3 linked regions of the Homo sapiens genome follow. The protein of the gene in region 2 purifies or fractionates together with the protein of the main gene of each other region. This does not show direct contact. Each region holds a gene or a part of one and is shown on either strand. Other genes may lie near its edges. The genes, in order: TXNDC9, PEX7 and VBP1.

Region 1 (3,656 bases), on a different chromosome or scaffold from region 2:
AATGAATAAGCAGTTCTTTAATGGTTATTTAAATATATTCCAGAAGAGCGTTTATAATTCATTTACAAGTGCAGTATTGCGCTAGTAAATGTTACTTGACCTCTTGTATAAATAATGCCGATTAAGAATTAGTCCTGGAATAGTTTTCGAATTTCTAACTCTGTAGATCTAAAACACAATTGTAAATGGTATAAAGATGTAAGAATCATATTGTGATAAAGTCAATCTCAAAAATAGAGAATCCAGACCCTTCCCAGATAATTTAAGAACTGAGTTTTCCTCAACTTAAACATGATGGCCACACAGAAAACAGTAAAGACACTTTTCGATGTGATACAACTGTATAAAACTCGAGAATATGAGTATTTAGGTGACCAATGTATAGACATTAATAGAATTTTAAAAACACATTTAAATCTGAAGCAGAAAAAAAAAGACAATTTACAAAGAATTATTGAGCTCTAATCATCATCAGAGTCTGAATCATATTTCTTTCCTCGGATAGTTTTCTTTTCCAGCTTTGTGAAGTTTGTTCCAAATTTCTTTTGGTTCTGAAATGGTGGCTCCATTAAATTTCCACTTAAAAAAAAAAAAAAGCATTTTATTCTTTATGATTTAGTACTAGTATACTAAACTGCACAAAAATCTATCTTTGTTTTCTTCCTGTAACATAGAATAAAATTTCTTTAAAATGCTGGTGTCAGGGAAGAGGTATAATGCTTATATTGATATTGATGGTTAATAGCCTTAAACCTTATTGTGTCCTACTGAATGTTTTAGATCAATTTTATTTTCCTTTCTTTTTGAGACAGGGTCTCACTCTGTGGCCCAGGCTGATGTGCAGTGGTGTGATCACAGCTCACTGCAACCTCCAGTTCCTGGGCTCAAGCGATCCTCCCACCTCAGCCTCCCGAGTAGCTTGGACTACAGGCGTGTGCCACCATGCTCAGTTAATTTTTACATTTTTTGTAGTGATGACATCTCACTACATTGCCCAGGCTTGTCTTGAACTCTTAGGCTCAAGCAATCCTCCTGCTTTGGCATCCCAAAGTGCTGGGATTATAGGTATGAGCCACTGCACCAGACCTATTTTCCTTTTTATCATTAATTATGGATTAACATTTGGTTAACACAGTGCTCAGTTGTCACCGGAAATGAGAGAAACCATCACACACCTCCCGATATGATGCATCACTTCCATAATATGCCCGTCAAAAATCGATAATCTGAATCTAATCTTGAGGAAATTTAAGACAAACCCAAACTGGGAGATGTTCTCCAAAATAAACAGTTTGTACTCTTCAAAAACATCAGTCTTAAGAACCAAAGAATAACAATGGTAACTAAAGACGTAATAACTAAATGTGCTGCATTTTTGGTATGAAGGACAATTATTGGGACAATGAGAAAACTTGAAATAAGAGCGGTAAATTACACAATAATTCCTGTTTCAATAATTGTACTGTCGCTACGTAAGAAAATGTTCTTGTTCTTAGAAAATATATATGGAAGTCTTTAGGAGTAAAGGGACACTGTATTCACAATTTCCACTCAAATGGTTCCCAAAATACTTCATAGTATCTATAAAGACAATGATAAAACAAATATAAAATGTTTAAAATTGGGTAATATGGGCAAAGGGTCAATGAGGATTCGTTGTACTAGTCTGCAGGGGGTTGTTTCTACTAGTTTTTTGTAGAGACGAGGTCTCATCTCACTATATGTTGCCCAAATTGGTCTCAAACTCCTGGCCTCAACTGATTCTCCCACCTCAGCCTCTCAAAGTCTGTAATCTTCTGAGATTACACAAGTGCCCCACCCGGCTGCAATTTGTTTAAGGCTTAAAATTACTTCAAAATATATAACTTTATTTAATAAATATTAATATTTTATGTTAATATTAAGGAAATGAAACCAATTTCTACAACATAGGAATGATTTCGGCATGTCTAGGAGAGTCAGAGAAAAGACGGGAGGGAAATGGGGGAGAAAGAAAAACGTGAGAGAACCTTCTACTTCCTGAAAGGCACCATGACTCTGGAATGGTAAGTGCACAATTTTACCTGTTACTTTTGCAAATCAAGAAAAGGCAAAAAAGACAAGATGATATGCTCTGATTTGTGGAATTAGATAAATTATTTGTCTGAAGAAGTGGACAAAGAAATGGAAGTTGGATTTTAGATTGTTTTCAAACTAAAACTGTTCTTCATAGCAAGCAATGTAAGCTAGGCATAGAAACCTTTTTCTATTCATCAGCCTCTATAAGTAAAACAGAAATATCCATGTTAAAAATCTAGTATTTTAAAATATAACTTTCTTTGCAAGAGTCTGCTTTTAATTTTTATTTTATCAAAGAGAATCACTTAAGTCAGAATTCATTTGAGCAATCTGGCTTAAATTGGGGAATAGTCAACACTGGATTGCCATTTTAAGTTTCCAGATTAATACAAAATTAGTGTCAATAGTATACGTTAAGCTGAAAACTTTTATAGTCAGGAGTACGGTGAGACTCAGTTTTACCTATTAAATCAGTTTAATCTGTAAATCTGATTTTGCCGTAAAATCACGCTAATATTACACACTTCAAAAAAACATGCTTTTCCTTTGAGAAACTTTCCACATCTCAGCCAAAATGCCTTAATTTCATAAAATAAATGTTACAATACAAAAATCTTTTGTAAAAATATCAACTATATATGAATTAAAATCAATCTCTTCTTTTGTTAAAAGTTACCTGTAATTAAGAATGTCAGAAGAACCGAGCCTCCATTCTAAAGTTTCTGTGGTGAAGTCATCTGTATTTCCTAGGTCAGTAAACCCAACAACATAATCTTGTGTTTTCCCATCTTTTAGCAGTGCTAGTGTGGGAATGACTTTGATATGCAGTCTCTCACAAAGGAAAGGTGCTTTTTCCACATTCAGCTTCAAAAATTTGGTCTCGAGGTGTTTCTTGGACAATATTGCCAGATGTCTGTCTAGTATTTTACACCTGTAAGTGACCACACATAGAAAATTATAAGCTAAAACCACAGATCGCTTTTTTCAAAATAAATATCATCAAGGGAAATCTAATTATGTAGTTTTTCTGTTGACTCTCATAACATGGCAGCCAACTTAAACTTGTGTCAGATGACCTCACTTCCAGATCAGAGGTTAGCTGCCTGATTACGAGATGGGAAAACAGCCTATAAGATTCTAGAAAGTCAGATTTGCATTAATGATATTCTCTTTTAAAATATTAAATATATGCTTTAAGTCATAAAGGAAGTTGTCCTATCTCCTACACAGGAAACTTGAAGAGGAACAAACTGAAACTTGACAAAACTCGGAAGAGACTTACAAGAATCAGAAGTGCACACATGGTGCCATATTTGGAAGTCATGAAGAAAAACTGAACAGCATTACCGAGGAAAAACTTCTTACTCCTAAATATGCAACGCTGTCAGTAAGAAGCACATTAAGGCTAAGGGTTACTAATAATATTTAAATAAATGTGGCCATTATGCTTCTAGGAAATTAAAAAATACCAGTAGTAACTTTTTTATTTTTTATTTTTTTGGAGGTGGCGTATTGCCCTGTCCCCCAGGCTGGAGTGCAGTGGCACAAGCTCGGCTCACTGCAAGCTCCGCCTCCCTGGTTCATGCCATTCTCCTGCC
Region 2 (3,656 bases):
TTCTAGTTAGACTTCCTCGTTTTCTTTTCAAATGCACTTTTTGGTAAGCGTTTGTATCAGGATGCCTTGAATGTTAGTGTAATAGAAAACAATTAAATGGCTTCAACAGTCAGAGTTTACTGTTTCACATATTTTGCTTGGTTATGTGAAAAATAAATGAAGATAACCTTTTTAGGTATTTGTTACAGCAGCACCCCTAATTCTTGGCACCAGTTTCTGCCTCAGTCTGTTCAGGCTGCTGTAACAAAGTATTATAGACTGGGTGCCTTATAAAGAACAGAAATTTATTTCTTACTATTCTGGAGGTTGGAAGTCCAAGGTCAGGGTGCCCACATGTTTGGGTTCTGATGAGGGCCCTCTTTTAGGTCAAAGACTACTGCTGTCTTTTCATTGTATCTGCAGGTGGTGGAAAGAGAATGAGAGAGGTTTGGGAAATCCCTTTTATAAGAGCACTAATCCCATTCATGAGGGCTCTACATTCATGACCTAATTACCCCCCAGAGGCCCTACGTCCTAAAACCATTACACTGGGGGGTTAAGATTTCAACATGTGGGTTTTGTGGGGATATATTCAGTCCATTGCATATGCCAGATACTCAAAAATACTTAAAAGGATTTAAGCTCAAATGAGAGTTTTAAGGAGCTAGTAAATATTTGTTGAATAAATTAATAAATGAGGCTGAGTGCAGTGAGTCATGCCTGTAATCCTAACACTTTGGAAGGTCGAGGTGGGCAGATCACTGAAGGCCAGGAGTTTGGGACCAGCCTGGCCAACATGGCGAAAACCCCGCCTCTACTAAAAATAAAAAAATTAGCTGGGTGTGGTGGTGCACACCTGTAGTCCCAGCTATTTGGTGGCTGAGGCACAAGAATCATTTGAGCATGGGAGGTGGAGGTTGCAGTGAGCTGAGTTCGTGCCATTGCACTCCAGCCTGGACAACAGAGTGAGACCCTGTCTTAAAAGAAAGTTATTAAAAAAAAAAGTTGATAATGAACATAGCCAATTTCTGTTTTTTTTTTTTCCACCAGTATGTTCAGGGAAGCTGTGTTGTGAAATAGAAGAGCAACTAATGGGTCATTTTCTTCTGTGGAAGAGAGTATATAATAAAGACGTATAGCATGGTTTTAGTCAATCTTGGATTTGAATCCCAGCTTTGTAAGTTACCTGTTGTGAGACCTTGCGTATGTCACATATTTTTCCTAAACTTGAGTGTTTTTATTTGCAAACTAAGTTTATTAGTAGTCTGTATCACAGACCAGCATTGAATAAATATGAGCTAGTATTATTATTTGCTCTTATTATAATAGGGTTTGAAAAATGTAAAACAAGTTAGAACTTTTCCAGTTACCCACTTTACCACTTGATGGCTATGTGTCCAACAGTCAATTTTCAAGTTGTCAGATGAAGCAAAAAAGAGAAATCCAAGATTTAGATATATTTTAGGCTTTGAGGAGTGAAGGTCTTGGTGAAATGAAAAGAAAGAAAAACATGGACATTATCTGTGTGAATGGTTGCTAAACCTAGCATCGAAGTAGGAATCAAATTCTTCTGTCTATTGTTTAACTGGTGTCTGCAGAGGTCATTATGTCTTTTGAGTCCCATAAAATGCCTTTGGCTTTGCTTATTCTAATGCTGCTGAATATATAATAAAAATTTTTAAAAGTTCAGTGAGAATAGAAAAATAAGAGTGAATTGACAATTTTATTTCACTGCTTTCTGACTTAAAACACTGTGCTACTGAGAGTGAGTTAAAGTGACTTTAAAGATGACATAAATCAATGTAATATATTAATTTCTAATTTTCAGACTAATGAGTTGGCTTATCACAATTTAAAAATGAGTTAAAATTTGTTCTCATAGTCAAATAACAAGGTTTATCAATTTGCTGAATTTTTATAACATATTTGATCCATTGAGGTTTTTGAGCATTGCTTATAAAAACTTATTTTTGACCTAAGTATACAACTATTAGTATTCTGTTATGGAGGAAATGTATTTGCTTATACATTTCAAGAGTTAAAATCTTGTTTACTTTAAAAAATGAATCAATTATTTACTTTTTGATAATGATAGAAGCTGAGAAGTCAATAATGATAGGTATTGTATTAGTCTGTTTTCACATTGTTATAAAGAAATACCTGAGAGTGGGTAATTTATAAAGGAAAGAGGTTTAATTGACTCACAGTTCCACATGACTGGGGAGGCCTCAGGAAACTTAAAATTATGGCAGAAGGTGAAGGGGAAGTAGATAACCTTCTTCACAAGGCAGCAGGAGAGAGAGAAAGAGAGAGAGAGAAAGCAGGGGAAACTGCCACTTTTAAAGCCATCAGATCTTTTGAGAACTCCCTCACTATCACAAGAACAGCATGGGGGAAACTGCCCCCATGATCCGATCACTTCCTACCGGGTTCCTCCCTGGACACATGGGGATTACAATTCAAGATGAGATTTGGGTGGGGATATAAAGCCAAACCATATCATTCCACTCCTGGCGCCTCCCAAATTTCATGTCTTTTTCACATTTCAAAACCAATCATGACTTTCCAACAGTCCCCCAAAGTCTTAACTTATTCCAGCATTAACCCAAAAGTCCAAGTCCAAAGTCTCATCTGAGACAAGGCAAGTCCCTTTTGCCTATGAGCCTATAAAATAAAAAACAAGTTAGTTACTTCTAAGATACAGTAGGGCTATAGGCATTAGCTAAATGTTTCAAATGGGAGAAATTGGCCAAAACAAAGGGGCCACAGGCCCCATGCAAGTCTGAAACCCAGCAGTGCAGTTACTAAATCTTAAAGCTCTGAAATGATCTCCTTTGACTCCATATCTCACATCCAAGGGGTAGGCTCCCATGGCCTTGGGCAGCTCTACCCTTGTAGCTCTGAAAGGTGCAGTCCTTATGGCTGCTTTCACTGGCTGGCATTGAGTGCCTGTGGCTTTTCCAGCTGTACAATACAAGCTGTCAGTGAATCTACCTTTCTGGGGCCTGGGGGACAGTGGCTCTCTCCTCACAACTCCAGTAGGCAGTGCCCCAGTGGGGACTGTGTGGGGCCTTCAACCCCACATTTTCCTTCTGTACTGCCCTAGCAAAGGTTCTCCATGAGGGCTCCTCCCTTGCAGCAGACTTCTGCCTGGACATTCAGGTGTTTCCATACATCCTCTGAAATTTAGGTGGAGGTTAAACTCTTGTCTTCTAAACTCTTCTTGTCTTCTGTGTACCCACAGACCCAACACCACATGGAAGCTGCCAAGGTTTAGGGCTTGCACCCTCAGAAGCAATGGCTTGAGCTGTACCTTGGCTCCTTTTAGCCATGGCTGGAGCTAGAGCAGCTGGATGCAGGGCACCATGTCTTGAGGCTGCACAGAGCAGCAGGGCCACTCAGGCCCACAAAACCATTTTTCCCTCCTAGGCCGCTGGGCCTGTGATGGGAGGGGCTTCTGCAAATGTCTCTGACATGCCTTGGATACATTTTTCCCATTGTTTTGGCTATTAATATTTGGCTCCTTGTTACTTATACAAATTTCTGCAGCAGGTTTGAATTTCCCCCCAAGAAATAGGTTTTTCTTTTCTACCTCATGGTTAGGTTGCAAATTTTCTGAACTTTTATGCTGTGCTTCCCTTTTAAATATAAGTTCCAAATTCAAATAATCTCTTCAT
Region 3 (3,597 bases), on a different chromosome or scaffold from region 2:
AAATTATGAAAGAAAAATTCAATCAAGGAAATTCTGTTATCTTTTCAATGAACTTCTCAATTGTTTGCAGATCTGTATTCCTTCCACAGGGATTTTATGGTGTTTCTAGAAATATAAGTTGTTCTTGGAACATGCTAGTATATGTACAAGTAAACTTTACAAATACGTGAAAAGACCCATGTTAACTTTAAAAAGGTGTTATTGTCTGAATCTTTGTGTCACCCCAAAATTGTTATGTTAAAATCTTAACCCCCAAGGTGATGGTATTAGGAGGTGGGGCTTTTGGGAGGTGAGTAGGTCATAAGGGCAGAGCCCTCATGATGAGATTAGTGCCAAATTAAAGAGGCCCAAGGGAGCTCCTTGCCCCTTCTGCCACATGAGGGCACAGTGAAAAGGTGCCGTTTACGAACCAGGACACAGCCCTTACCAGACACCAAATCTGCCAGCACCTTGATCTTGGACTTCCCAGCCTCCAGAACTGGGAGAGATAAATTTCTGCTGTTTATAAGCCCCCCACTCTGTGGTATTCTGTTATAGCAGCCCAAACATAGTAAGACAAAGAGTAACATGAAAAAAGTGCTCTGCCATAGTTTTAGCATCACTGTTTTAATTTCATGAAATACAAGTACAAAACATTGTATAAGTATACTTTTTACTACATGGAGATGAACTAATACATTTATGTTTTTATCAGAATCTGTATCACCCAGCGCTGGTCAATGTACTAGTAGCTTTCCACAGGGATTTTTTATACTATTCCTATAAGGTTTTATCATGAATAAAAAAGCTCACAACTCTTTTCAGCCATTGCAGATTCACATTTATCTTAATATTCCTGTTCAAGATGCTCTGGAGAACTGTTAAGAACTACAAAATCACCTTAGGCAGAGTTTTGAATGAGTAATTTTATTTCACGTTGGCCAAGATCTCCCTTATGTTGGCATTGCAAAGACACTGCACTTATCTGAGGTTAGAAAAAATGTAGTCTTAATAGCCCTCTTAATGTGTAGCAAGGCAAATTACCATTTCCTAAAATGTCCAGAATATCATAGTAGTTAGTTATTCGTTAAGCAGTAAGTCATGAAACTCCACTTATAGAAGACAATAGCAACAGAGGACCACTAAGTCCTAAATATACCAAAGAAAAACAAGTTTACAAATATTCAAACTGTCTGTCTTCTCTACCTCTAAAATGGTTTAACCACATCAAGTGAGAGTAACATCAGCCAATTAGAAAGGGAAAAAGTAAACTGTGCTAGCGTCCGGCATTCAGCTTCCATAGCATGTCTCACAGTTTTCGGCCATTTCAGCTAAGAGTTTTCTTATGACAGGCAAAAATAATGATTAAAATACCATTAGCTTTGCTGAGAAATGTGGAAAAAAAAATCACAATGTCAAAAATATTTGAAACTAATTTTGTTTTTATAAATAAATAAAATGGTGTTTATCTTTTCTTAAAATTCTTGCTGTTAAAACATTCAAAGTTATGTCAACCTGTAAGGATAAAGGGGTATTTAAGATAACATGTTTGGAAAACTAAACCACATTTTTAATTGCCAGCATTATGCTTTGTTCTTGGTAGAGTCATCCTTGTTTCTTCTTTTTACATCCCAATTATAAACCCTGGCCATATCTGCAAGAATTGTCAAAGAAAATGCAAATGCAATTCTAAAGATAATGCATGCAATGACTAAGTATTCACTCCACTCACACAATGAATCAAAGACACAGAAATGAAACATATACAAATACTGGTAACAAATAGTATTGTAAGACATCCTGCTATAATGTCAATTGTTAGGAAAATACTATAATTAAACTCTATCAAAACTAAGGACTCAAATTAATTGTTAACCCATTGTTTACTATGGTATTAGTCAACTGTCAGCTAGTCAACTATGATATATTTAACAAATATGTACTAGACACTCTCGATAGTTTTAAAGACAGTCCCTCATCCAAGAAATCTGAAAGATCACTCAACCCATATCCTGCCATGTAATATTTATATTATTACAATTATCAATAATTTTATCTCTTACCCTCCCTTTGGCTTAACAAGTTTATTAAGCATCTACTGTATTTTTGACTAGGCACTGTACAAAGCCCTGACCTGAATAAGACAGGTGAAGTTCTTTTCCTCGTGGAGCTTAGACTCCAGTAGAATGTCAATGTAACAGAGACTGTCCACCCTAGCTCCCTCACTTGTCTGCACACCTTCCTTTCCTACCTTTTGCAGTACTAGCAATAACAAATGGCATTTAACTAAGCTTGTAGGACTCATCTTAGAGGATTTCCTCACTTTTGGCTCCTGTACCCATCTAAGTCACTGGATCCTGTTTTTTTCTCACACGTTTAATATCTTTTCCTTTCCACAAGCCACCCGTCCTAGGCCCTCGTCATCTCATAGCTGGATGAAGTTTCCACACTACCCGTCAGATGATGATGACCACTGCACTAGGCCCCAACAGGCCTGCCTTCCCTCAGCCAACCATAAACAACTGCCACATGCTGCACACTGGAAAAGAAGAGAAAGTGCAGCTCCTACATCTGAAGAGCTCACGGTTTGGCAAGGTAAAACTAAGCAGTATGTGTTAAGCAAGCACACAAGAAACACTCTGAGGATCAGAAAATGTTCAGGAAAGCTCTGATGCTTGGACTGAGATATTTAGGGTAAAAGGGTAAAAAAAGAGCACATCCTGTAAATATGGGAAAGTCATTCCAGTTAGGAGGAACAAAGTGTAGAAATGCAAAGGGTGTGGCACAATTGGGGAGTGTGTACAATAACTGACTGGGGTTATCTGGAACCTGGAATGCACTGGGGAAAGGCAAGAAGAGGTCAGTGGCATGAGGTGAGACAAGCTGGGGGCACTTCACAAGAGTGCCTATATGTATATCTTGTAAGTAACAAGGAACCGTTGAAATATTGTAACCAGAGGAATAAAAATGAGTGACCTAGTAAATTCATACTAGAGATAGTGGGAAGGACAGATGGAATGAGAGGAACCTAAAAAGGTTCTGAGTGCAGGTTTTGGAGCCCCAGAACGAGAACAGTAATGGGCAGAGAGATTTATGAGGGAAATTTGATGTGAATCTGGCGACTGATTTATTATTGGTAGTGAGGAAGAGAGAAGTGTGAAAGGTGACTCCCGTGATTTTGTCTTGAGTGACTGTGACAGGAAGTAGGAGGAAAAGACAGGCCAGAGAAGAAAGGCAAAGAGCTTGCCTTCCCCCTTGACCAGAATACCCCACTCCCACCTCTTCTCTCTGCTGATCTTTAAACCCTACGCCGCCTTTAAAAAAGCAGCCTAACTTTTATCTTCTCAACAAAGCCTTCTTTGAACTAAGTCCAGCCTACATCTATCTTTCCCAAAGTTTAAATTGCCTTGGTGTTGCATATGTTAACTTACTTATAGTTTGCTATGAATTATCATTCAGCTGTTTTACATGTACAGTTCTACCAGAGAAAGGCACTGCCACTCTTTTCTAAAATTGATTTTCATGCCCCATATGTCTTAGCACAGTTGCAGGAACATAGGAGACCCTTAAATGCTTGTGAAATTAAACTATTTAACCAGTTATAAAGTTGTCTTGGGA

Evidence for each region.
Region 1: the proteins of PEX7 (region 2) and TXNDC9 purify together in Homo sapiens (affinity purification with mass spectrometry; 3 studies listed by BioGRID and IntAct, with this or other methods). This does not show direct contact.
Region 3: the proteins of PEX7 (region 2) and VBP1 purify together in Homo sapiens (affinity purification with mass spectrometry; 3 studies listed by BioGRID and IntAct, with this or other methods). This does not show direct contact.

The regions. Positions count from the first base shown.
Region 1 is NC_000002.12:99,319,221-99,322,876, forward strand, and holds part of TXNDC9 (thioredoxin domain-containing protein 9), read right to left. Parts: intron 2,990-3,656; coding exon 2,735-2,989; intron 2,564-2,734; exon of another isoform or gene 1,906-2,563; intron 580-1,905; coding exon 462-579; 3' UTR 1-461. UniProt on the Homo sapiens protein: Significantly diminishes the chaperonin TCP1 complex ATPase activity, thus negatively impacts protein folding, including that of actin or tubulin.
Region 2 is NC_000006.12:136,828,978-136,832,633, forward strand, and holds part of PEX7 (peroxisomal biogenesis factor 7), read left to right. Parts: intron 1-3,656. UniProt on the Homo sapiens protein: Receptor required for the peroxisomal import of proteins containing a C-terminal PTS2-type peroxisomal targeting signal. Specifically binds to cargo proteins containing a PTS2 peroxisomal targeting signal in the cytosol.
Region 3 is NC_000023.11:155,236,808-155,240,404, reverse strand, and holds the end of VBP1 (prefoldin subunit 3), read right to left. Parts: intron 1,634-3,597; coding exon 1,563-1,633; 3' UTR 564-1,562; downstream 1-563. UniProt on the Homo sapiens protein: Binds specifically to cytosolic chaperonin (c-CPN) and transfers target proteins to it. Binds to nascent polypeptide chain and promotes folding in an environment in which there are many competing pathways for nonnative proteins.